7 linked regions of the Homo sapiens genome follow. The protein of the gene in region 1 interacts with the protein of each later gene in a pairwise test. Each region holds a gene or a part of one and is shown in the gene's direction. Other genes may lie near its edges.

Region 1 (3,500 bases):
ATCAACACTGCCTAAATAGTACAAATAACAGATTCTTATTTAGTTCTTTTTACTTTTTAAAATTTGCTTTATAAGAAATAGGTAGAGGAATAGAGCAACAAAAGTATACAGATATTTAAGCGTCTGTTTTGAAATAACATTGCTTTTGTTGCTGTAACACTATACCTGTTTAATTATCTGGATTCCTTGAATAACCAAGAGCCAACTATTTTATCGAAAACAGTAGCAATAATATTAAAGAATAAAATTATCTCAATTATATATTACATTTATTTTGTGATACTCAGCTTTTGAGGATGGCATATTATGTCGTTTTAGGCAAGTTATTCATGACTCTTTGGGTCTCTTATTTCTACCTGTGCTGTGAGAGGGTTGAACTACATAACCTTTAAGGCTTAGTTTATTGAATCCTTATAACATCTCCTAAAACAGCAGCCTAGATATCAGTCTAAACTCAGTCTTCATATTTTTCCAATAGAAAATGTGAAATTTTAACATACATCATTACAAATGATTTTCTATTATAAACACTTTATATATGAGCATTTTTTACTTAAGTTTGGAAGTATGGCTTAAGATTTTTGTAAAATTGATAAAAATGTGTAGGTCTTACAGAAGAGAAAACAAAAGAAACTAAATGGTTTTGGTATAAGTATGTTCCTTAACTAATCAAAATACAAATTTTTAAAATCTTTTGCCATATATTTTTCTTCATGAAATATTACCATTTGTAAACAAATACCTTAGAATGATGTTTTATTTATGATTATATTGTATTAGAGTAAAATTTTTGGAATTTGAAAGACAAATGCATTAGTCCACTGAGGAAATCAGTTACTCACTGTCAGGTATAATCACATAAAAGCATTTGTGATTTTGAACTGCAGAATTCCAAGAAACAAGCTTTTCTGTTTTCATTTTTATTCACTTATCAAACAAAAACTTGAGCACAGATGTGTGTTTTTAACTAATTTTATATATTTTTTCACACACGTACATAGCAGCATTATTCACAGTAGTTAAGAGGTGGAAACGACCCAGATGTCCAGTGTTGGATAAATGGATAAACGCAACGTGGTATATACATACAATGGAATATTATTCAGTCTTAAAAAGGAAAGAAATTCTGACATGTGCTACAACATAGATGAACCTTGTTACTAAGTGAAATAGTCTAGTCACAAAAAGATAATTATGTATGTGGCATTATGGTTCCACTTATATGGACCCTCTACTGTAGTCAAATTCGGGCTGGGCCCAGTGGCTCATGCCTATAATGCTAGCACTTTGGGAGGTGGAGGCTCAAGGATCACTTGAGCCCAGGAGTTCAAGACCAACATGAGCAACAAAAAAATATTAAAAATTAGCCAGGCCTGGTGCCATATGCCTCTAGTCTCAGCTATTGAGAAGGCTGAGGGAGAAGGATCACTTGAACCTGGGAGGTGAAGGCTTCAGTGAACCATAATTGTGCCACTGCACTCCAGCCTGGGTGACAGAGTAAGATCCTGGCCCAATAAATAAATAAATAAATAAATAAATAAATAAATAAAGTAGTCAAATTAATAGAAACAGAAAGTAGAAAGATGTTTGCTAGGGCCTGGGGAGAAGGAGAACTGATGACTTGTTTAATAGGTATAGAGTTTCAGTTTTTCAAGATAGAAAAGTTCCAGAGAGTCACAACAATGTGGATATGCTTAATGATACTGGACTGTACACTTAAAAATGATTAAGATGGTATATTTTATGTTATGTGCTTTTCTTTTTACCGCAATGCAAGAATTTCATATATTATAAAATTAATACATTAGCACCTGTAGAAATGATCTCTTTAGTGCTCAATGGTAAAACAGTCAATTCTTCTTTATTTTTTCAATTTAAAGTAAAATGACTTTATAAAGAGACTATATAGCTGTTGGCTTAAAAAAAATCCGAGTGGCTAGAAAGTAGCAAATAACAAGAAAGAAAACTTTAGCTTTGTATTTTGCTTTATGGTTTTACAAACAACTTCACAATAACTCTGGGAGATAGGCCTTGAAGGCATTTTTTCCATATATTTAGAAGTCTTTGAGATTTACAGAAGTTACGTAACTTTTGTAGGTGGTCACTATAGTGCAAATGAATGTGCATGGGTTGTTTTGTCCCTAGCCCAGTGCTCTTGTCTTCCCGTCACACTAGCCAAGCAAGAAAGAAATAATCAGGCCTGTAATCTGTGTTTCTCTTTTATTTTACCTTTTCTTTTATTGTTATCTACAGAGTATCACTGTTTAGAATACTAAATCTGAACAAAGTCATAATATTACCAAAGATCATCTAAAGAAAGACATCTAAATATTCAAAGGTGCTATAAAGGCTGGTGTATGAGATTAAACTACAAAGTGATATTTATTCATATACTATATACATACACAAATATGTGAATATATGTAGAATACAAAATGCGATATTTAGCCTGAGAAGATGGTTAACTTCCATATGACGGTGTAGGATTGTTTAAAAAAAGTGTATTCAAAGTGAATTATGAAAGTATTTGCCAAATTGCATAATACAAGAGCTAGAAACTTGTTAGTGAAAGGATAATGAAATTCATTCAGGACTAACCGTATTTTACCCAGTGGCTATTCAACTTATAGAACTGTTAGAGTCAAGGGAAGATTTTGGCTAAAGTTCCCATTAACTCACACACTCACACACTCTAATGGTATCTTCCATCTTTTTTGCTAAAGGGAAACACCATTTCAATTTTCTTAAAGCTTTGAGTTCATTGGCAGCATTGGGTGGATGGTTGAACTTGGAACTCCCAGATTAAGTTTTATGACTACTTTTTCTGAGAAGCCCAGCAAAATTGGAAACAAGGAGAGAAGGAAACTACTTGTATTCTGATCTTGGCTTCCAGGAAACGAGGCAACATTCTTCAGCTCTCTCTCTCGAGATATATTTTCTCCCTTGAAATTGTCTCCTTTTCCCTTATGAACTGGCTTTTATGAATAGGCCATTTTCTGAAGTCATGAATTTGGACATCACCTGCACTTGGGCATGGTGGCTCACGCCTGTAATCCCAGCACTTTGGGAGGCCGAGGCGGGTGGATCATTGAGGTCAGGAATTTGAAACCAGATATCGTCTGCACATGATGAAACTCACTACCATTTATTGAGCATTTAGTATAGGACCATTTTAAGATGCTGTAGTACTGTATTTGATACACCTTATATTTAATTTTCAGATCATCTCTATAAGTTAGATATTATTTAACCATCTATAGATGAAGAAATAGACTCAAAGCTACATAGCTAGAAAGTAACAGAGTTGGAATAGGATCAAGATCTTTCTCCTTCCCAACAGTGACCTTTTTATAATGCAACATAGCCTACTTATTTATTCAATAAATACCATTTTATTGCCCAGTAATAATAGTGAACATTTATTGGATGCTTACTAAGTGTCAGGCACTGTGTCCAGTGTTTTATATGTATTATCACATTTAGTCCTCATATTCCATTGG
Region 2 (3,500 bases), on another chromosome or scaffold:
GGTGGCCTCTGCCTTCCAGGGACTCTCAGCCTAGCCAGAGAGGTTTACCTCTTTCTACAAGTGTCTCAAATCCAGGGGGAAGGTGGGGTTTGCGCAAAGCCTGGAAGGATGAATTCTTGGGCAGAGGTGGAGGGGTGAGGGGCTCCTTCTAACCAGATGTCATAGAGCCTTCTCTCTCTGCCACCCCCTGGAGGTGCCATGGGGCCTGGGGCTCGGGGTCATGCCCTCCTGGCTCCCTACTCCCAGCCGTGGATTGCAGAAGATTCTGGTCCTGGCCCCTGTTACGGAACAAGGCCTTTCCCTTCCACCCTCCCCCTTCAGAAAATCCAGTCCGTCTTGGAGGAAGAAAATCTGTGTCTTTCAGAGAAGTGTAGGCAAAAGAAAAGGGCCAGGTGCAGTGGCTCGCGCCTGTAATCCCAGCACTTTGGGAAGCCGAGGTGGGCGGATTGCTTGAGCTCAGGAGTTTCAGACCAGCCTGAGCAACATGGTGAGACCCTGTCTCTATCAAAAATAAAAAATAAAAAAAAATTTAAAGGAAAAAAATGTTTTTAAAAGAAAAGGGATTTGGAATCAGAACTGGCTCTCAGGCTCGTGCCTATAATACCAACACTTTGGGAGGCCAAAGCAGGAAAATGGCTTGAGCCCAGGAGTTTGAGACCAGCCCTGGCAACACAGTGAGACCCCATCTCTACAAAAACATGAAAAAATTAGCCAGACATAGTAGCGTGCACCTGTAGTCCCAGCTACTTGGGAGGCTGAGGTGGGAGGATTGCTTGAGCCCAGGAGGTCAAGGCTGCAGTAAGCCATGATTATGCTACTGCACTCCAGCCTGGGCAACGGCAACAGAGCAAGACTCTGTCTCAAAAACCAAAAAAACAAAAACAAAAACAAAAAAAAACGGCTCTTGGCTGGCCGGGCGTGGTGGGTCACGCCTGTAATTCCAGCACTTTGGGAGGCCGAGGCGGGTGGATCACGAAGTCAGGAGATCGAGACCATCCTGACTAACACGGTGAAACCCCATCTCTACTAAAAAAAAGAAAATACAAAAAAAATTAGCTGGGCATGGTGGTGGGCACCTGTAGTCCCAGCTACTCAGGAGGCTGAGGCAGGAGAATGGCGTGAACCCGGGAGGCGGAGCTTGCAGTGAGCAGAGATCGCGCCACTGCACTCCAGCCTGGGAGACAGAGTGAGACTCCGTATTAAAAACAAAAAACAAACAAAAAAAAACGGCTCTTAGTGCCTGACCTCTGGATCAGTCCTTGGGCAAAGCACTTAACCTGTAGGAGCTACAGTTTCCTCATCTGCAAGGCTAACAAATACCATTCAGCACACCTCACCAAGGCTGAATTTCACAAATCTAAACTCAAGAGAAGAAAGCAGCGGCAGAAGAGTGCATGTACTAGGATACCACTTAATATTATTTCAAAACAAGCAACGCAGCCTTTTGCATGGAGACACAGGCTAAGGACATGGGCGGCCACAGTGAACTCTAAATCCAGGATCATTGTTATCGGTTGGGAGGGCAAGAGCAGGCAGGGGAGCCAATTGGGCTTGGAACATCTTATCTCTTAAGGTGGATGAAAGGGATATGAATTTTCTTTCTTTCTTTCTTTCTTTCTCTCTTTCTTTCTTTCTTTCTTTCTTTTTCTTTCTTTTCTCTCTCTCTCTCTCTCTCTCTCCTCTCTCTCTCTCTCTTCTTTCTTCTTTCTTTCTTTCTTTCTTTCTTCTTTCTTTCTTTCTTTCTTCTCCTTCCTTCCTTCCTTCCTTCCTTCCTTCCTTCCTTCCTTCCTTCCTTCCTTCCTTTCTTTCTTTCTTTCTTTCTTTCTTTCTTTCTATCTTTCTTTCTTTCTTTCTTTTCTTTCTTTCTTGCAGAGTCTCGCCCTGTCACCCGGGCTGGAGTGCAATGGGGCGATCTTGGCTCACTGCAACCTCAGCTTCCCAGGTTCAAGCATTTCTCCTGCCTCAGCCTCCCGAGTAGCTGGGATTACAGGCATGCACCACCACGCCCGGCTAATTTTTTGTATCTTTACTAGAGATGGGGTTTCACTATGTTGGCTAGGCTGGTCTCAAACTTCTGACCCGTGATGTGCCCATCTTGGCCTCCCAAAGTGCTGGGATTACAGGGGCGCACCACCGTGTCCGGCCAATATTTTTCTTACCATCTTGTTATTTCCAAAGTATTTCCTAACACAACTTAAGGTCCTACCTTCAGCTGGGACCTGGTAGCATCTCTCACTGAGATAGGCATGTGTGTCTTTTGTCTTTTAGCTCTTTGAGGAGTTGCAGGAGCTGCTGACCCATGACACCAAGGACCAGAGCCCCTCACGGGCACCAGGGCTTCGCCAGCGGGCCAGCAACAAAGTGCAAGGTGAGAGCATCCAGGAAGGGGCACTTCCTCTGGGCTACACATGGAGGGACTTGGCTGTCTGACTGTAGTATCTCTATTCCTCTGTTTTCTGAATGTTTGGTGGTGGTGGGTGTTGTTTCCTGCTGCCCCACCCCACTGCCCCTGTAAGGACAGGTTCTCGCTATATTGCCCAGGCCAGTCTTGAACACCTGACTTCAAGCAATCCTCTTGCCTCTGCCTCCCCACATGCTGCAGTTACAGGCGCGAGCCACCATGCCAGCCTGAATGTTTGTTGTTGTTGTTGTTTGAGATGGAGTCTCACCCAGGCTGGAGTGCAGTGGCGCGATCTCAGCTCACTGCAACCTCTGCCTCCCGGGTTCAAGCAATTATCCTGCCTCAGCCCCCCGAGTAGCTGGGATTACAGGCGCCCACCACCATGCCTGGCTAATTTTTTTTTTGTATGTTTAGTAGAGATGGGGTTTCACCATGTTGGCCAGGCTGGTCTCGAACTCCTGACCTCAGGTGATCCGCCCACCTTGGCCTCCCAAAGTGCTGAGATTACAGGCGTGAGTCACTGTGCCCGGCCACCTGCGTGTTTTTGTATGAGAAGTGGAGTGCAGGCAAAAGGACCTGGGGTCAACCTTCAGCGTGTGGCTCTGGGCAAGCCATGAGACTTCTCCCTACCTCAGTTTCCCCACCCGTAAAATCCAGTGAGGTTCAGCTACTTCTAGCTTATTGGCTCAGAAGTGCACAAGAACCCCTCAGAAATCATGGGAAACTCCTGCCTCCTTAATTTAGACTCCTTTTTAGGCCTTTGGTCCCCTGATGTGGGCCAGGGAGTTGGGGACCTGTATCCAGCTATGAACCCACCACAGGAAGATGTCCCTTCTGAGTCTTGTTGTGTGTGAGCCCCTCCCTCATGTGCCTAAGAACGATCAAGGCTGGCTGTACTGAAACATCTTGGAAACTTCCAAAAAGACCAAAGTGCTCCACAAAATGTACCCTCACTAAGCCTAAAACACTGAGGGAGGGAGTGTGGCTTTGGGATGGGTAGCAATAAAGAGGTAAGGCTTAGCTACCTCCTGGCAGGTTATATTAGGCCTCCCCTCCTGTGCCACCCTAACCTACCTGGCTTGTGGCTTTCTCACTTGTG
Region 3 (3,500 bases), on another chromosome or scaffold:
GTCTCAGAAATCCTTGTGAGTGGAGGTCACTTCTTCTAACTACACAGCATGCCTTGAGGGATTCCCACCCTCCAGCATCTCACTGTTACTGAGGGCAGGGAGGCAGAAGGTCCACATCTTCCTGCTCAGGCTTAGGCCTCCCAGCAAGACAGCCTCTGCCCCAATGACAAGAGAAGCCCATGACTAAAGATGAATCATGCATTCAAACCTAAAATCATGAAAATTAAAAAAAAAATTTAAGATGGATCAGTTCCTTTTATCTTCAAGAGACCACTCTTCCAAAGAAGCAAAAACTCTTAGGAGGAAGGAAGGATCCAAAGTACTTGGCATTATTGTTGCTTGTGGCTCAAATATTTTAAAGATGATTTGGCATTCCAAGATGAGAAAATCTTACACTCAAAGAAAGACAGTTCTACTCTATTCCCAAAGAAGTATCTTTAAGGACATCTTTTAAACAGCTGTTTACCCAATCCCTATTTGAATACTTCTTCAAAAAGCCTATTCCATGTCTGCTGGAATTCTATTAGAAATGTCTCTCCTGTTTTGAATTACACTATGCTGTCTTCTCAGTTGTTCAGATTTGAACTCCTAGGGTAACACAGAATGGACTCGTTCTCCTCTAAGCACCTTGAATCATCAGATATTTTAAAGATGACTGCCTGGTGGCTCCTTCTGCAAACTAAGCTTCCCTAAATCTCTCGACCTTGCCTCATAAGATGTGGTTTCTAGACTCCTCTTCTGGATCTGCTCAATGACTTTCTTAAAGGGTAGCATTTGGCAGCGCATGCCTGTAATCCCAGCTACTTGGGAGACTGAGGCAGGAGAATCACTTGAACCCAGAAGGCAGAGGTTGCCATGAGCCAGAGATCGCGCCATTGCACTCCAGCCTGGGCAACAAGAGTGAAACTCCGTCTCAAAAAAAAAAAAAAAAAAAAAAGCCAGGCGCAGTGGCTCACGCCTGTAATCCCAGCACTTTGGGAGGCCGAGGTGGGGAGGATCACAAGGTCTGGAGTTCGAGACCATCCTGGCCAACATGGTGAAACCCTGTCTCTACTAAAAATACAAAAAATGAGCTGGACATGGTGGCACGCGCCTGTAGTCCCAGCTACTCAGGAGGCTGAGGCAGGAGAATCACTTGAACTGCAGAGGTGGAGCTTGCAGTGAGCCGAGATCGTGCCACTGTACTCCTTCCTGGGCAACTGAGCGAGACTGCGTCTCAAAAAAAAAGTATAGCATTTGCAACTGCAGAAGGTGGTCTAGAAGCAGTGTGACCACCACAGAGGCAGTAGGATTGTCACTGCCCTTGATTTTGCTCACCACTCTGCCTCTATTAATGTGACCCAGGCTTGCAGTTACTTTTTAACAGTTGCAGCACATCCTTGACTCACGTCTAGCTGATGGCCAGCCAGATGCCACCCAGCTCTTCCTCAGATAAACTTCCTGCAACCCCGGAAACACATCTACATACCCCTTTATCCCAAGTCTCTCCTGTCTCCATCACATATTATTTTATTTTACTCATGACCCTCATCAGCAGTTGCAGTTATTTAGTTTACTTACTTAGGTTCATTTCCCTCCAGTAGGATATAAGCTCAGGGGAGACAGTGTTTATTTTTCATTAAATTTGTAGATCCTAGTTTAGTATTTAGCACATAGTTAGTGCTTAGGATGGATGGATGGATGGATGGATGGATGGATGGATGGATGGATGGATAAAGCCAGATATTCCTCATACTGTAGATATCTAGTTGACCTTTTTTGAGACCTAATATAAAACTTTATGACTTTTTTTTTTATTCTCAAAGAAGAACGATTACTTCTATTAAAATTTTAGGCTGGGCGCGGTGGCTCACGCCTGTAATCCCAGCATTTGGGAGGCCGAGGCGGGCGGATCATGAGGTCAGGAGATAAGACCATCCTGGCTAACACGATGAAGCCCCGTCTCTACTAAAAATACAAAAAAATTAGCCGGACCTGGTGGCAGGTGCCTGTAGTCCCAGCTACTTAGGAGGCTGAGGCAGGAGAATGGCGTGAACCAGGGAGGTGGAGCTTGCAGTGAGCCGAGATTGTGCCACTGCACTCCAGCCTGGGCGACAGAGCGAGACTCCGTCTCAAAAAAAAAAAAAAAAAAAAAAGAACAAAATAAAAACAAACAAAACTATGCCTTTATCATACCACAGGAAAATCAAGAAAATAAACCTGTACAAAAAAGTTAGCTATGTTTTCAGGCTGTATGACCAGTCTGTAGATTGTCAGACCTTGAACTTTAAGCCTCTGATCTACTTACCCTTTTTTCCCAGTGTTATGGTCCCTGAAAATATATTATTCTTCCAAGTCACTGATAAAAGTCTAGACTTGGAGAAACCCACAGAACACAATCAGAGACAACCTCTTTCAGGTTGACTTTGAGCCTCTAAGCAAAACTCATTCAAGCAATCATCATGTCTTGAGGGTCCCCTCTGTGCCTGGCACTGTGCCGGGCTTTGGAAATACAATCCTGTTTGGGTACTTGCAGGCATTGGGAGAGGCAGATAAGGAAGCTGTCAGTTGCAGCCCAGGGAAAGCGCACTGCGATAGTGACAGCAGAGTTTACAGGGTGCTTGGCTGGCATGGATAAGGAACTTCTAAATCATACTCAGCAGAAGAGAAAGTTTCCAAGGGGAGGTGCTGTTTGAGCGGAGTCTTGAAGAACAAACAGCCAGACAAAGGGTGTGAGGAAGGTGATTCTGCATGGGAACACTATGTGGCGGTGGCATGGTGGCTTCAGAGAATGTGCTGGGCTCAAGAATATAAGGTGCTCAGAATGGCCAAAGCCTACTCTCAGGCATCCCTGAGCCCCGTGACCATGCCACCTGTATTGTCAAGGGTCTAAGTAGATAAAGATATATATAGGCTTCAAGATACACAGTAACTGTGGCCTTCTCCAGTCTGCCCCCTTAGGCAGCCTATAAGGGAAAAAGCCAGTAGAGTCATTTGGCGTGGCTTATTTTTCTCAAACCCATGCCAACTCTCAAAACCCATCTCTTCCTTTTTGGAGGGTTTAAAAAACTATTATATGGCCTAAACTTTTGCCTGGCTTACCAGCCCATGCAGCAGGACCTGTATCTTTCCCTCTTGGGTAAATTGGGACATTTGCTAACAAGCATCTTTTAGAACTCTCCTGGTCTCCAGCAGTTTCCTAGGGATTGAGTATGTTAGCTCCACCTCTCTGGAGGTTTGCGTTTTTTTTGTTTTTTTTTTTTTGAGACAGAGTCTCGTTCTATTGACAGGCTGGAGTGCAGTGGCGCAATCTCGGCCCACGGCAACCTCCACCTCCCAGGTTCAAGCGATTCTCCTGCCTCAGCCTCCTGAGTAGCTGGAACTGCAAGCACGCACCACCATGCCCAGCTAATTTTTTTTTTTTTTTTTTAGTAGTGACGGGGTTTCACCATGTTGGCCAGAATGGTCTTGATCTCTTGACCTCATGATCCGCCCACCTTGGCCTCCCAAAGTGCTGGGAT
Region 4 (3,500 bases), on another chromosome or scaffold:
CTTATCTCAAGACCATGTTTTTCCTTTATAGATTTTGCCCTTTAATGAGCGAAATGTAAAGGCAAAGTGAGTGAAATGAAAATGACCAGATTGTTGCCACTACTTTTAAGTAAAGTTAACAACAAACTTACATGATGCTGTGTAGGTTACACAGCGTTTTCATGTTCATCATGGTCAGAGGCAGCCTGGATGCAAAGTGGATGTTATGGGGTGGTGGGGGGCGGTGAGTAGTTTCATGAACTTTTAAAAAGCACTTCCATTAAAAAATTCTTCCTAGATCTTCTGTAAACCTTTTTTAAAGACGGCTACAATGACCCTGGCTTATTTGCTACTATTTCTCTGCTTTGTTATATTATCACCCAAGCCCACCATGGACCCCATGCTAGAGAGGGCTAAGACTTCTTTTTCCTCATGTCCACGCTCCCAAGTCATGCTTGTGTATCACCTGTTTCTTATGGACTTCCAGTGTGTTATGTTGTGTTAGAATTCCCAGTTCAGTTTGAGACAGATTTTGCACTTGGCATATTAGTAGTTCCCACCTTGCCATTCATACTTGCTTTGTTGTTTCATATTTATGTTTTCTTAGCATGAAATGTAGCCGCTGGAATTGTATTATTGGCCACATTGTCTCTGATTGGTTCAAAGCAAATAGAGATTTGATGGGAAAAGTCAGTGGATTATGGGCCTGTACAAAAGTGCTTTGATGAACGTCCTGCCATGTACATCTCCTCAGGGTATGCCAGAACCTCTCTAGGACACATTCCTCAAACTGCTGGGTCATAGCATGGACACATGCTTTATTCTACTAGTTATTGTCAGAAAGCATTTAAAGTGTTTTACCAATTTATAATCCTACCAGCTGGGTATGAGAGTTCTAGTTTCCCTGTTTCCTTATTAATGCATATGTCCCCAAACTTTAAAATATTTGTCAGTTTGATGGGCTGAAGAAATGTGATCTCATTGCTTTTCATTTGTGTTTTCCTAGTTGAGTGTCATTTTGTATATTGATTGACCATTTGGGTTTTCTTTTCTGTCATTTGCCCTTTTTTCATTTAAAAAAAATGCCTTGTTTGACTTTTTGTATTGATTTGTAACAATTCTTTATATATTTTCTGCACGTCAATCCTTTGTTATCTGCTGCAGATACCCTCCAGTCTGTGCCATTCATTTGTTTATTTTGTGGCTTTGGTGTACAGAAGTTTTTTGTTTTCATGTTGTCAGATGTATCCATCTTTTTCTTTGTGGTTTGTGGGTTTTGTGGGGGTGGGTAGTTTTTGGATTTTGTCTTATTTAAGAAATCTTCTGTAACCCGAGGTCATTTATGCACACCTGTATTTTCTTCAGAAAGTTTGAAAGCTGCTCTGCTTTTTCCATTTGGGTTTTAAGTGAGCTTGAGTTTATTTTTATGTGTTACCTGAGGTGGCCTTTTTCTGTACGGGTAACAAACCGGAGCTGTTGGCATTTATTGTAGTCCCTTCTTTCAAAAGCTCCCAAATAACGTGGGGCTGTGTCTAGGCTGTTTCTTTCCTCTTGGGCCAGCTGTAGGGTTTGCCTTTCCTTGTCTGTCTGCACCTGCACTGCCGCCATATTGTTTCCATTGTTACTGCTTTGTAAGTCATAATGGCAGGTGGGACAAGTCATTCCTCCCCCTCCTTCTTCAGAGTGGTCTTGGCTATTCTTTACCTCCCCCCTTTTTATTATGTCACTGTTCGTGTTGATCATATTACCAACTTTCAGATTTTTCTGTTAAATCAGCATTGAAAATTTACCTCACAGCCTGCGTCAGGACTTCCTTAGAGTCCTAATTCTCCTTTCTGTCCCCGTTACCCTCCGGTCCCCTGTACCTGTTCCCTTGGTTGCCCTGCTTCAGGTGTCGGCTACCTCAGGCTGCATTCCTACATCAGCCCCCATACCTCCACACCCCCGCATCATCCCACAATATCCCAGACTTACTTTCCGGAAGCAACGGCCTGGTCTCGGACTCTAGCAGTGATTTCTAGTTGCTTCTCAGGGCCACAGGTCTTGCCTAGGAGCACCCTGGGGAGTCATTTGACAGCTCACCCAGCTTCTTTTGGTGCCCGAGGGCATATCTGGAGGCCATAGGGAAGCCCTGGAAAAGACTGGGCACAAGCTGAAGCCAAAGTTGGGTGCCTGGCTGGCATTGGTAGATTTGGGGTCCTGGTTTGCATTGCTCACGATGCAGAATGGTTGCTGACCTTTCCTCCAGCGTTGGGGATGATGTGAGAGTCCAGCAGGCCCCCTTCATGTGGGCCCTAACTTGGGGAAATCTCCACCGTGAGCACCGGGAAGTGGATGGTGGGGCCAGCATAAGCAGTATCCCGAGGACTGATCATGGAGGACCATTAGGAAGGGGGTCTTAAGGATGACCTTGGCCAGACCGTGGGAAGCCTCCAGAGAGTGTTACCCAGATCCAGGGTACAGTGTTGCATTTCCAAATGAGATGGCAGTTCCTTCGTTCCTTGATATTGTCGGAGAAGGATGTTTACCAAACAGAAGGTCCCTGTCTCAGGGTCTTCCTCTGAATGGTTTCCTCCAGTGAGTCACTTCAGCATCCTCTCCCCCAACCCGATTCCCTTTCAAGCAGCCCACCCTACTTGTAATCCACATGTCTTGAATGAATTTTTGCATATCATTTTCTTCTATCTTCCTTCACCAAATGATGTCTCCCTTCTTCACAGCGATGCTCAGAACTCTTTCCATCCACATAACTTACCTGGTTTCTCTTTCTCAGCCCCACCCCTCTGTCTGCTTGCCTGTGACACCACTGTGCAGAGCTGCCCCTCTTTCTGTTTGTTTATACTTATGTGTATTGCTTTTCTCGTGAATCTTCCCAGGGCTTGTTCATGTCTGTTTAGCCTGTCATTCCTCATTATGTTGTTTCTCAAGGACAAGGATTATATCTCCCTCGCCCTTTGACTCTTCCTGGTACAGGCCAGTGCTTAGCACATTAGGTCGTAGAACAGAAAGTAGGATTGGCCGGGTTCAGTTTGAGGTTTATCACTTGCTGTGTGATCTTGAACAAGTTACATAACCTTTCTGGGCTTCAGTTTTTATAAAATGAGGATGATAATGGTACTTTCCTCATAGGGTTATTGATTTGGCAGAGTATCTTGGATATGGTAAGCACCCATAATCTGCCTATCAGTGTTATTGTTAGTAGTTAAGATATTAGAAACCATGCCAAAACGTGGGACCTAAAGTGCCACATACAAATTTTACAGTTCAGTGATGCTGTCGATTTAAATCAGTTACATGTTGGCATCAGAAAAATTGTCTTTCCTGACTGAAGCGCTGTTGATTACTCCTGTCTCACTCATTTCCTCCCTCTTCCTTTGATAGGCAGGTCCACGAGATCCAGTCTTGCATGGGACGCCTGGAGACGGCAGACAAGCAGTCTGTGCACAGTGAGTAATTAACTGTGGAGACCAGAGTCCTTTCTCTGATGACAGGGTGCTAATGGGCTGGGCTTCCTGACTGCA
Region 5 (3,500 bases), about 54 Mb from region 1:
ATAATTAACATGATCTCACTTGGGCTGCTCTGCTGAGAGTAGATTACAGAATAGAGCAGAACAAGAAGGAGGGCACTCTAGTATTCCAGGCGTGAGTGATGGTGGTTTGAGGCAGGGTGATGGCTGTGCTGACTCAGCATGGCTGGTTAGTTTTATGCACTCTGGTCCTTTCCATGGTGACTCCAGATGTTTCTGCTTTGCCCCCTTCTGGGCCCGGCCCTGGCAGTCACTGAGGTGTCAGCCAGTGTTGAGCCAGCATCGCTTTCTCCATCTAAGGTTTCTGAGGGAGAAGCCAACAGAACAGGTGGCTGAGGAGCTCTTCAGATGTGCTCTTAGGGGCACTCTCATCCAGATGTTCTATTTCAAACTAAATGGACTTTTCTGGCTGCCTTTTCAGAATCCTTTATGCCCAGCGCATCTCCCTGGATGGTGGCCCTAGCTGTCATCCTGACCGCATCTCCCTGGATGGTGTCCATGACTGTCATCCTGGCTGTTTTCATCATCTTCATGGCTGTCAGCATCTGTTGCATCAAGAAACTTCAAAGGGAAAAAAAGATTCTGTCAGGGGAAAAGAAAGTTGAACAAGAGGAAAAAGAAATTGCACGTAAGGAATTTGTAAAGAAAGTGTGGAAAAATAGAAAGAAATTCAAAAAGAAAAGTTAAATGAGTAGGAGGACAATTGACTGTCATAGAAAGGCCACAGCTCTCACAGGTACCGGCTTAGGGAAGAGAGAGAGGAAATGCACAGCAGCAGCCACAAGGGCTTGGAACTCTCATGTCATAAGAAGTAATCATTCAGAGCTTTCTTTCTTCCATGCTGCACACATTACATTCATTCACCTGGCTATATGCAGCACTACATGGCTGAACGAAAGTTCAGACAAAAGTCTAACAATGTACTGATACTACCCAGCCATCTGATCATACATCATTGCTGGTTTCTGACTGTTCCTTAGGCATAAACGAAGGGTGATGTTGGTGTTCATAGAAAGGATGGTTCCTACGTTGTTTAATACAAGCTCAATTTCTCTTAGTTCTTCTGTTGAAGACATGATTTTGTTTCTGTATTTTGTTTTCAGAGCAACTTCAAGAAGAATTGCGTAAGTTTAGCCTTTCCTGAACTACTCCGTGTACAATTTGTGTTCTGCTTACTTAGCAGTGTCTCGTGACATTCACCTCTGTCTGTCCCTTGCAGGATGGAGAAGAACATTCTTACATGCTGGTGAGTGCCTCTGATGTTCTCTCAGATCTCAGCTTTCTCCCCACTAGCCAGCTAACAGGACTCCTTAGAGGAGATGAGCAAGGGGCCCAGGGCTACACAGGGACCATAGGGAACTGGGGTCAGTTCATCAACGGTGTCCCAGCAATGATGCATCATGGCTCTTCTGTCAGGGAACCCCAGCAGCTCTTAATGAACCCTGCAGTTTACATCCCCAGGACCCTTTCTCTTTTGGAATAATTTAATGCATGATTATCAAAGGTTTCCCATGCATAGTAGCCTCCTAAGAGTTACATTTCAGAAGTCATTGCTCTTTGATTCTGGATCAATTTGAAATAAGATAATGCTGTCTTAGCAATTCATATCCTGGGAATGGTATAGACTGTGCACAGTTGAAGACCTATGTGAGGAAAAGGCCATAAGGGTCCCCAGTAAGCCTGATGCAATGGTGTACAAATAGGTGGCCAGAAATACCTTTCTGCCTCTAAGAGAGCACTGATATTCTGCATGTAGTCTGCCAGGGGAAGGGGTTTGGGTGAGTGGGAGGGTGAGTGGGAGAGCACAGAGAAACCAATCGCCCACTTCCAGTGAGTTCTCATCTTGTGATTCGGCACCTCTGCCTGTCAGCACCAAAGAATCCAAACTTTACCAGATACCAGGGCCCATGGACCTTTCCTCTTTGGCGAGTTTCAAAATTGCCACTGTCATTTTGGGACACAATCACAACTTGTCACAATCAGACATATCAACTTGTGGAAAAGAGAAAATCATTTTAATGCAATAGAAAGGTAGACTGAATAAGTAAGAATACATGCAGAAGGTAGAGGTTTGCAGAATGCTCAGCTCCTGGGGCTTTTCCTGTATGGGAGAAGTAATCCTGGTAGATGTCAGACTCATATTGTTAAAGCAAAACTGGATTGAAGTATTTCTTCCCTAACTTTGCCCACACATCCCTCAGGCACCAGGTTTTCTTTTGCACACATTTATTCTCCTTCTTTATCCTTTGAAGTGTGCCCTTGTCAGCCACTTAAATCAGTTGTCACCTATTAAAACAACCTATAGGACCAACGAAGAGGTCCTTCACCACCTAGGACAGTGTGTAATGATAGACTCACTTAATTGATCCATTGAGAGGTATGTGGGGGAACAATAGGAGATAAAGCTTCTGTGATGGTTTAAGCCAAGTTGGAAAGTTTCTAACTAAAGAAAGTCCCAGAGATCATATATCTTGAATAGAAAAGGGATCAGATCTTAGAATGCTGAGAAAAACTGGGAACCATTAATTTTGGCTCATTTCCTAAACTCTCTGGATTTCATAGAGCCACAATTCTTCTCAACCTGGGGGCACTGCTTCTGTCTCTGGAGAGATAGAAGTGCAGCTTCCGTAATTCTCAGGGTATGAGCTGCCTGGGATCAGGGGACCTTCATGGAAACGGCCACTACATGGGGAACCCCCTTCAGCTTTCTGAGACTTCTCTGGGGACCAGGAACCACACAATCCCCAGGGTTCCTGAGACCCCAGGCATAAACCTGAGACTTCCTCTGCAGCTGATGTGGTCCTGGATCCAGACACCGCTCATCCCGAGCTCTTCCTGTCAGAGGACCGGAGAAGTGTGAGGCGGGGCCCCTACAGGCAGAGAGTGCCTGACAACCCAGAGAGATTCGACAGTCAGCCTTGTGTCCTGGGATGGGAGAGCTTCGCCTCAGGGAAACATTACTGGGAGGTGGAGGTGGAAAACGTGATGGTGTGGACTGTGGGGGTCTGCAGACACAGTGTTGAGAGGAAAGGGGAGGTCCTGCTGATTCCTCAGAATGGCTTCTGGACCCTGGAGATGTTTGGAAACCAATACCGGGCCCTGTCCTCCCCTGAGAGGATTCTCCCTTTGAAGGAGTCCCTTTGCCGGGTGGGCGTCTTCCTGGACTATGAAGCTGGAGATGTCTCCTTCTACAACATGAGGGACAGATCGCACATCTACACATGTCCCCGTTCAGCCTTTACTGTGCCTGTGAGGCCCTTCTTCAGGTTAGGGTCTGATGACAGCCCCATCTTCATCTGCCCTGCACTCACAGGAGCCAGTGGGGTCATGGTGCCTGAAGAGGGCCTGAAACTTCACAGAGTGGGGACCCACCAGAGCCTATAGAATCAATTCCTTGGACTCACAGCCATGCAGATAAGCCCTGGCCATCTCAGCAGCCACCGCACAACCCCCCTAATGAAAGACACGCCCTCCTCCCCTCTGGTCACGTAAGAGAACATCTTCCAGCTGCCTTTTTCACACCC
Region 6 (3,342 bases), on another chromosome or scaffold:
CGTCAGTGGAAACTTGGGTGGTTTTATTTTGTTTTTTTTGTTTTACTATTTGGAGAGTTTCACATATGTAACAATTATTTTGCTGTAAAATTATTCTTGACTTATATGTTAGAATTGAATATAGCAGCCAGGCACAGTGGCTCACGCCTGTAATCTCAACACTTTGGGAGGCCGAGACGGGTGGATCACTTGAGGTCAGGAGTTTGAGACCAGCCTGGCCAACACGGTGAAACCCCATCTCTACTAAAAATACAAAAATCAGCCAGGCATGGTGGTGCCCGCCTGTAATCCCAGCTACTTGGGAGGCTGAGGCAGGAGAATCACCTATGGGAGGCAGAGGTTGCAGTGACCTGAGATCAAGACATCGCACTCCAGCCTGGGCGACAGAGTGAGACTCCATCTCGGGGGGAAAAAATTGAATATAGCAAAACCCACAAAATCTGACGAGTGCAGCCCAGGAACCGGAGTGAGGGACAGAGCTGGGGTTTAGGGACTAGGCTGCCCACACCCCAGCCCTGAGCCCAGCCATGAGCCAGCGACAGCTCATGGGGACTGACTGGGGTTCTGAGAGACAGAGGCTGGCCAGGGAGGGGATGAGCATCAGGAAGTAGCAACCAGCACTGGGGTGGGGTTGGGGGTTAGTGACTCTGGTGCTTTTCCTTCTGGGGTGGAGGTTCCAGAAGGCTCTACAGAGCTCCGAGACAGAACTGGGATTTCAGGAACCCTCGAGGTACACCTCATAGGCAGGCCCTTACCATTATAAAATTGTTTCTGATTACAATATTAAACAAGGATTGGGGGAGGGGGATTGAAGATATAAAATGGCTAAAAAGAGGCTTGCTGATTTTCCAGTATATTTTAGTTTGGGGGACAAGAAAATAGCTGTCCTCACCTTGTCCTGCTGAACCTGGGGGTGGGGGTAGAGCTGGAATGCAGAGGTACAGCCCTGACCCACCCAGCTGAGAAAAGCCCAGGGAGACTCCGGAGGGGCTGGGCCTGAGGAAGGGGCACCTGGGCTTCAGTCTTGGGGTGGAAACACCCCCACCTGCACCCGCACCCACACCCTGGAGGTGCAAGTGGCTTCTGCGGCCGGGCACGGTGGCTCACGCCTGTTACCCCAGCACTTTGGGAGGCTGAGGTGGGTAGATCACCTGAGGTCAGGAGTTCAAGACCAGCCTGGTGAAAGCCCATCTCTACTAAAAGTACAAAAATTAGCCAGGTGTGGTGGCACACGCTTATAATCCCAGCTACTCGGGAGGGAGGAAGTTGCAGTGAGTCGAGATCCCGCCATTGCACTCCAGCCTGGGTGATGAGCAAGACTCTGTCTCAAAGACAAAAAACAACAACAAAAAAAAAAGAGAGAGAGAAAGTGGCTGCTGCCTGTGGAGGGCCTCAGGCCCGCGGCCTGCCCTGATGCCAGCGATCACTGGGAACGGTAGAGTCAGCTGCAGGAGGCCTGCACCCAGGCTCCTGCCAGCAACCCAGCTGTGCTTCCCCAGAGACCGTTCCCAGGCACCGCTGCCCTGAGCCTCCTGCCAAGCATCCTCTCTGCTTTCCTTTCAGAAGAGAATTCCGACTCGGACTCTGACTGAAGGCCTGGCGGGTGCCTTGGCAACCTGAGCCACACAGGCCTCCACCCCTGCGCCTCACAGGGGTCGCTGGCGTTGGAGCGGAGGCCTGGACTTCTGAGTTGCAGAGGGGGCTGCGGACACAGCAGGCCCCCTACAGCCTCAGGTTCTGCCTGAGCCCAGCCTACCAGGCTTGCCCCTCAGCTCAGCACTGTTGACCACGCTGCGTATGAGGGCATCTTGGGTATCCCACTCCTTCTCCCCATTTCTGTCCCACAGGCCTTCAGCCCTTTAACGTCTCTGCCAAAAACCAGCACAAGGAGACAAAGCAGAGCCTTGTCTGTATCTGGGCAGCAGGTGTTCCATGCTGCTAGGTGGCGGGGGTCGGGGGTCTTCTGTTTCACTAACAGGAACAAAGACAGAAACCATGACAGGGCTGCCCCGCCAGGCCCCGGTGGGTTTGTCTGCACTTGGTGCTCCTGCCCACACCAGCCACTTTGGTGACAATGACCCTTCCAAGAATCTTTGGTTCAAGGAGCACCAGTTCCCTCTTCATTCTTGAAGCAGGGAGAAATTGACCTTTGCCTTGTCGCCCAGGAAGTGGGGCTCGGCACCCATAACTAACACCTCCCACCCTTGGAAACCATGTCTTCTGGGGGTGAGATGACCATTCTGGGTCTAAGACTGTTTCAAAGAAGAGCTCATAGACTGACTGGTCCAGAAGACAGAGGGTACAACAGTGGCATCACAGTGACAGTGTCATGGGGAGCTGGGCGGGCCCAGCCAAACCCTCCTTCTTCCTAGAGCCCAGCCAGCAGGCAGGAGTTCCTGGACCCTCAGGACAGTGAACTTCCAGACCTCAGGGCAGGTCTATGGGCCACTGCAGGAGATGAGACCAGCCTTCTGTGTTCACCTAACGATTTATACTGTGTATCTGTCTTTGATGGAATTTTGTAACTTTTTATATTTTTTTATGCAAAAGCAGCTTCTTAACAGATGGCATTTTCTGTGACTCTAGGCCTCACAAAAGAGCCAGAGTTCTGGACCCATGTTTGGAGCATTTGTAGCCTTATTCTCTTGCGTGTGAATCTCTTACCCTGAAAAAAAGCCATAATGAATTAAGCCAGACTGACCACTTGCTTGGAGTGTGTGCTTGAAAAAACCAGAGCAATACTGTTGGGTATTGTATCAGGCTTCAGTACAAACTGGTAACACCAATGTGGATCCTGACAGCTTTCAGTTTTAGCAAAAATACACGTGAAATCTGACTACCATTTAATCCTTTATTTCCCTAACCTTTTTGGCACCAGGGACCAGTTTCGTGGAAGACAGTTTTTCCATGGACTGGGGGTTGGCGGGTGGGTTGGGGTGAGGGTGGGAGGGGATGGTTTCAGGATGAGACTGTTCTATCTCAGATCATCAGGCATTAGATTCTCATAAGGAGCACACAACCTAGATCCGTAGCATGCACAGTTTACAATAGGATTCGCATTCCTATGAGAACCTAATCCCACTGCCAATCTGACAGGAGGCAGAGCTCAGGCGGTAATGCCGTTGCTTGCCACCCACCTCCTGCTGTGCAGCCTGGCTCCTAACAGGTCCCATGGTACCAGTCCACTGCCCAGGGGTTGGGGACCCCTGCTCTAGTTCTCACACTACCCTGTTTTATAAACAAAGAAACTGAGACAGAGGTCGGGTAACTGGCCCAGGGCCCTCTCACTTACACATCAGGATAGTGTCTCACGGCAGCCTCAGGCAGCCGGAACCCTGGGGC
Region 7 (3,921 bases), about 39 Mb from region 1:
TTTCTCTCAACGTTTAATATTAGAAGTGTTTGGGGTCTTTATTGAGAAGTTTGGTGATGTTTTTGTGACCAGAAATATGCTATAGGAACTTAACTCTTGTTTACATCAATCAGCCTAGGGTAAAAATGGTTTTGTTATATGTTGTTTTGCGTAAAGTCATGGTTTCCAGGAACTTATGGAAGACACTGAGGATTACTCCAATACTTGTAGTAAATTTGGGAGAAAAAGGCAAGGACTAAAGTTACTACTCCTAACACAAATGAGACGGTCATGGTGTGCCCCATCAAAAAAGGAGAGAAAGAGAGACAGACACATAGAAACACGTGCACATACACACACACACACACACACACACACACACACACAGAGAGAGAGAGAGAGAGAGAGAGAGAGGGAGAGAGACTATAGAAACATGATGTTATAAATAACAATAGTGCTGAGGAAGATGAATTAGTGTAAAATTGTATTTTTTGTTCTGAGGATAGGTTACATAGATGATTCTAATCCATTTATTATTTTTACATTCCAGGCTACCTAAAAGAAGACAGTTATCTCATATTTGGCTGCCAGCTTTTTATCTTTCTCTCGACCACTTAAAACTTCAGACTTCCTGTCCTGCTGGTATCATGGAGAAAGTCCAATACCTCACTCGCTCAGCTATAAGAAGAGCCTCAACCATTGAAATGCCTCAACAAGCACGTCAAAAGCTACAGAATCTATTTATCAATTTCTGTCTCATCTTAATATGTCTCTTGCTGATCTGTATCATCGTGATGCTTCTCTGAAGTTCTGCTACAACCTCTAGATCTGCAGCTTGCCACATCAGCTTAAAATCTGTCATCCCATGCAGACAGGAAAACAATATTGTATAACAGACCACTTCCTGAGTAGAAGAGTTTCTTTGTGAAAAGGTCAAGATTAAGACTAAAACTTATTGTTACCATATGTATTCATCTGTTGGATCTTGTAAACATGAAAAGGGCTTTATTTTCAAAAATTAACTTCAAAATAAGTGTATAAAATGCAACTGTTGATTTCCTCAACATGGCTCACAAATTTCTATCCCAAATCTTTTCTGAAGATGAAGAGTTTAGTTTTAAAACTGCACTGCCAACAAGTTCACTTCATATATAAAGCATTATTTTTACTCTTTTGAGGTGAATATAATTTATATTACAATGTAAAAGCTTCTTTAATACTAAGTATTTTTCAGGTCTTCACCAAGTATCAAAGTAATAACACAAATGAAGTGTCATTATTCAAAATAGTCCACTGACTCCTCACATCTGTTATCTTATTATAAAGAACTATTTGTAGTAACTATCAGAATCTACATTCTAAAACAGAAATTGTATTTTTTCTATGCCACATTAACATCTTTTAAAGTTGATGAGAATCAAGTATGGAAAAGTAAGGCCATACTCTTACATAATAAAATTCCTTTTAAGTAATTTTTTCAAAGAATCACAGAATTCTAGTACATGTAGGTAAATCATAAATCTGTTCTAAGACATATGATCAACAGATGAGAACTGGTGGTTAATATGTGACAGTGAGATTAGTCATATCACTAATATACTAACAACAGAATCTAATCTTCATTTAAGGCACTGTAGTGAATTATCTGAGCTAGAGTTACCTAGCTTACCATACTATATCTTTGGAATCATGAAACCTTAAGACTTCAGAATGATTTTGCAGGTTGTCTTCCATTCCAGCCTAACATCCAATGCAGGCAAGGAAAATAAAAGATTTCCAGTGACAGAAAAATATATTATCTCAAGTATTTTTTAAAAATATATGAATTCTCTCTCCAAATATTAACTAATTATTAGATTATATTTTGAAATGAACTTGTTGGCCCATCTATTACATCTACAGCTGACCCTTGAACATGGGGGTTAGGGGAGCTGACAATTCGTGGGTCCGCAAAATCTTAACTACCTAATAGCCTACTATTGACCATAAACCTTACTGATAACATAAACAGTAAATTAACACATATTTTGCGTGTTATATGTATTATACACTATATTCCTACAATAAAGTAAGCTAGAGAAAATGTTATTTAGAAAATCATAAGAAAGAGAAAATATATTTACTATTCATTAAATGGAAGTGGGTCAACATAAAAGTCTTCATTCTCATTGTCTTCACATTGAGTAGGCAGAGGAGGAGAAAGATGGGGAGGAAGAGAAGGCGTTGGTCTTGCAGTCTTGTCTTAGGGGTGTGGGGAGTGGGGGAAAGAATATTCATGTATAAGTGGACCCTTGCAATTCAAGCCCTTGTTGTTCAAGGGTCAACTGTAATAGGATATAGCTATTTTTCTTCCTCTATCAACCAAATGGTAAGCATCTATTTTGCAGTCCACTCTACTGAGCTAAATTATAGATCCAGCTATGCTATTTATAATTATTTTCTTGATGAATAAATTTTCAATTTCTCCTCTGACCATTTCAGAACATCTTCCAATAACTCATAAAACAACTGAAGTAAAATTGAGTGCTGGAAAATATATTCACCAAACTTTGGTAATTTAAGTTGACTAAAGTTTAAAATTAAGTCTAAAATAGTTTACACCTATACTGCATAATCCAACAATTTTAATTTCAGTTGAAGACATGTTACTAATATAACTATTATTAAAAGAGTAGAGGATGTGTAATTAACCATATCTTCTAAAACATGGTTACTAAAAGAATATGTAACATCAATATTGACCTTGGTTTCTTACACAAGTGTTGCTAACTCAATAGTGAAGGAGACACTATTAAATTTTCTGAACCCATGAGAGATACTAGAGATGGGGAGTGGAAAGTGTTTGGTTCAGGGATATCTGAAGAACAGAAGGGCAGAGATTTCTTAAGTGACGCCTCATCTACAAGCTGGAAATTCCTAAAAACAAGTAGAAAGCTTATAAACAACAGGTGATACACTCACCTCACTGGTTTTAGTAAATTACCAATACAGAAAGTATCCCTAGTCTTAAAAACAAGTGGAAAATTTGAACTGATTAGTCATATTCCTTTGATTACACTGTTTGTTACAATATTTTTCTCAGTAAACAGAAATAACTAATTTTTTTGTTCTTCATTCTTTGATAGAAATTAAAATCTTATTCTGTGAGGATTACAGAATACTATAACTCAAATTATAAAGTAGAATAAACTCTTTAAATAATTATTCTTCATCATAAAGTGTAAAGAATAAGATATAAGAAAACAATTTATTTTTAAAATTTAATATACTAAATGCTCAAATATGTTCTACTATAGAATAAGTTCTTATCTTAATTTACAGGGCACTAAAAACAATTTTAAAATGCTTAATGTTGCCTTTTATATTTTAATTGGTTAAGAATATATATTTGTTTAATGCAAATCAGAATCACTATATTAAAATGAATGTTCTTGAAAACTCAGTGGGGCTGCTCTATAATACACTTACAATTGATACTAACGATAAAACGCTCTAATTATAGTTTTAATTTTATAGGGGTTTTTTTGGTGACTTTCCCCAAATAAAACAAAATCAAGACGCCCAAGTCCAGACACACAAGAGGGCAGACGTATATAAGATAACAAATTGCTACTACATAGCGATTATTTATCTTTTGATTATTTTTGAGACTTCTGGCAAAGTAGGACTATAATAAATTTTCAGAAAAGATCTGCTCTTCTGCTAAGTAACAGCACACTTCAAAATGTCCAGAAATTTTATGCTAATATTACATAGAAAACTTGACAGATGAAAAAAGTGAAACACATTACTAATTTTATTCATTAAAACAGGTATATAAAAGTCCTCTTTAACTACCTAATGAATGTGTCATATCCTAATATAGGGAGTGTCATAGTGTTCACATCTTTGAATATATAAATTATCTCAAACAGTTAAAAAATTAAAGCCAGAACAGGGTAC

What was found.
Region 2: the proteins of ELOVL4 (region 1) and HMOX1 interact in binary tests that used the Homo sapiens proteins (3 or more experiments, as listed by UniProt).
Region 3: the proteins of ELOVL4 (region 1) and SERP2 interact in binary tests that used the Homo sapiens proteins (3 or more experiments, as listed by UniProt).
Region 4: the proteins of ELOVL4 (region 1) and GOSR2 interact in binary tests that used the Homo sapiens proteins (3 or more experiments, as listed by UniProt).
Region 5: the proteins of ELOVL4 (region 1) and BTN2A2 interact in binary tests that used the Homo sapiens proteins (3 or more experiments, as listed by UniProt).
Region 6: the proteins of ELOVL4 (region 1) and CMTM3 interact in binary tests that used the Homo sapiens proteins (3 or more experiments, as listed by UniProt).
Region 7: the proteins of ELOVL4 (region 1) and PLN interact in binary tests that used the Homo sapiens proteins (3 or more experiments, as listed by UniProt).

What each region holds. Positions count from the first base shown.
Region 1 is NC_000006.12:79,937,554-79,941,053, reverse strand, and holds part of ELOVL4 (very long chain fatty acid elongase 4), read left to right. Parts: intron 1-3,500. UniProt on the Homo sapiens protein: Catalyzes the first and rate-limiting reaction of the four reactions that constitute the long-chain fatty acids elongation cycle.
Region 2 is NC_000022.11:35,387,596-35,391,095, forward strand, and holds part of HMOX1 (heme oxygenase 1), read left to right. Parts: intron 1-2,268; coding exon 2,269-2,368; intron 2,369-3,500.
Region 3 is NC_000013.11:44,380,324-44,383,823, forward strand, and holds part of SERP2 (stress-associated endoplasmic reticulum protein 2), read left to right. Parts: intron 1-3,500. UniProt on the Homo sapiens protein: Interacts with target proteins during their translocation into the lumen of the endoplasmic reticulum. Protects unfolded target proteins against degradation during ER stress. May facilitate glycosylation of target proteins after termination of ER stress.
Region 4 is NC_000017.11:46,926,160-46,929,659, forward strand, and holds part of GOSR2 (Golgi SNAP receptor complex member 2), read left to right. Parts: intron 1-3,360; coding exon 3,361-3,425; intron 3,426-3,500. UniProt on the Homo sapiens protein: Involved in transport of proteins from the cis/medial-Golgi to the trans-Golgi network.
Region 5 is NC_000006.12:26,389,608-26,393,107, forward strand, and holds part of BTN2A2 (butyrophilin subfamily 2 member A2 isoform a precursor), read left to right. Parts: intron 1-397; coding exon 398-604; coding exon of another isoform or gene 605-663; exon of another isoform or gene 664-1,079; coding exon 1,080-1,100; exon of another isoform or gene 1,101-1,195; coding exon 1,196-1,222; exon of another isoform or gene 1,223-2,538; coding exon of another isoform or gene 2,539-2,688; exon of another isoform or gene 2,689-2,767; coding exon 2,768-3,360; 3' UTR 3,361-3,500. UniProt on the Homo sapiens protein: Inhibits the proliferation of CD4 and CD8 T-cells activated by anti-CD3 antibodies, T-cell metabolism and IL2 and IFNG secretion.
Region 6 is NC_000016.10:66,611,046-66,614,387, forward strand, and holds the end of CMTM3 (CKLF-like MARVEL transmembrane domain-containing protein 3), read left to right. Parts: intron 1-1,563; coding exon 1,564-1,592; 3' UTR 1,593-2,842; downstream 2,843-3,342.
Region 7 is NC_000006.12:118,558,296-118,562,216, forward strand, and holds the end of PLN (phospholamban), read left to right. Parts: intron 1-529; 5' UTR 530-626; coding exon 627-785; 3' UTR 786-3,421; downstream 3,422-3,921. UniProt on the Homo sapiens protein: Reversibly inhibits the activity of ATP2A2/SERCA2 in cardiac sarcoplasmic reticulum by decreasing the apparent affinity of the ATPase for Ca(2+).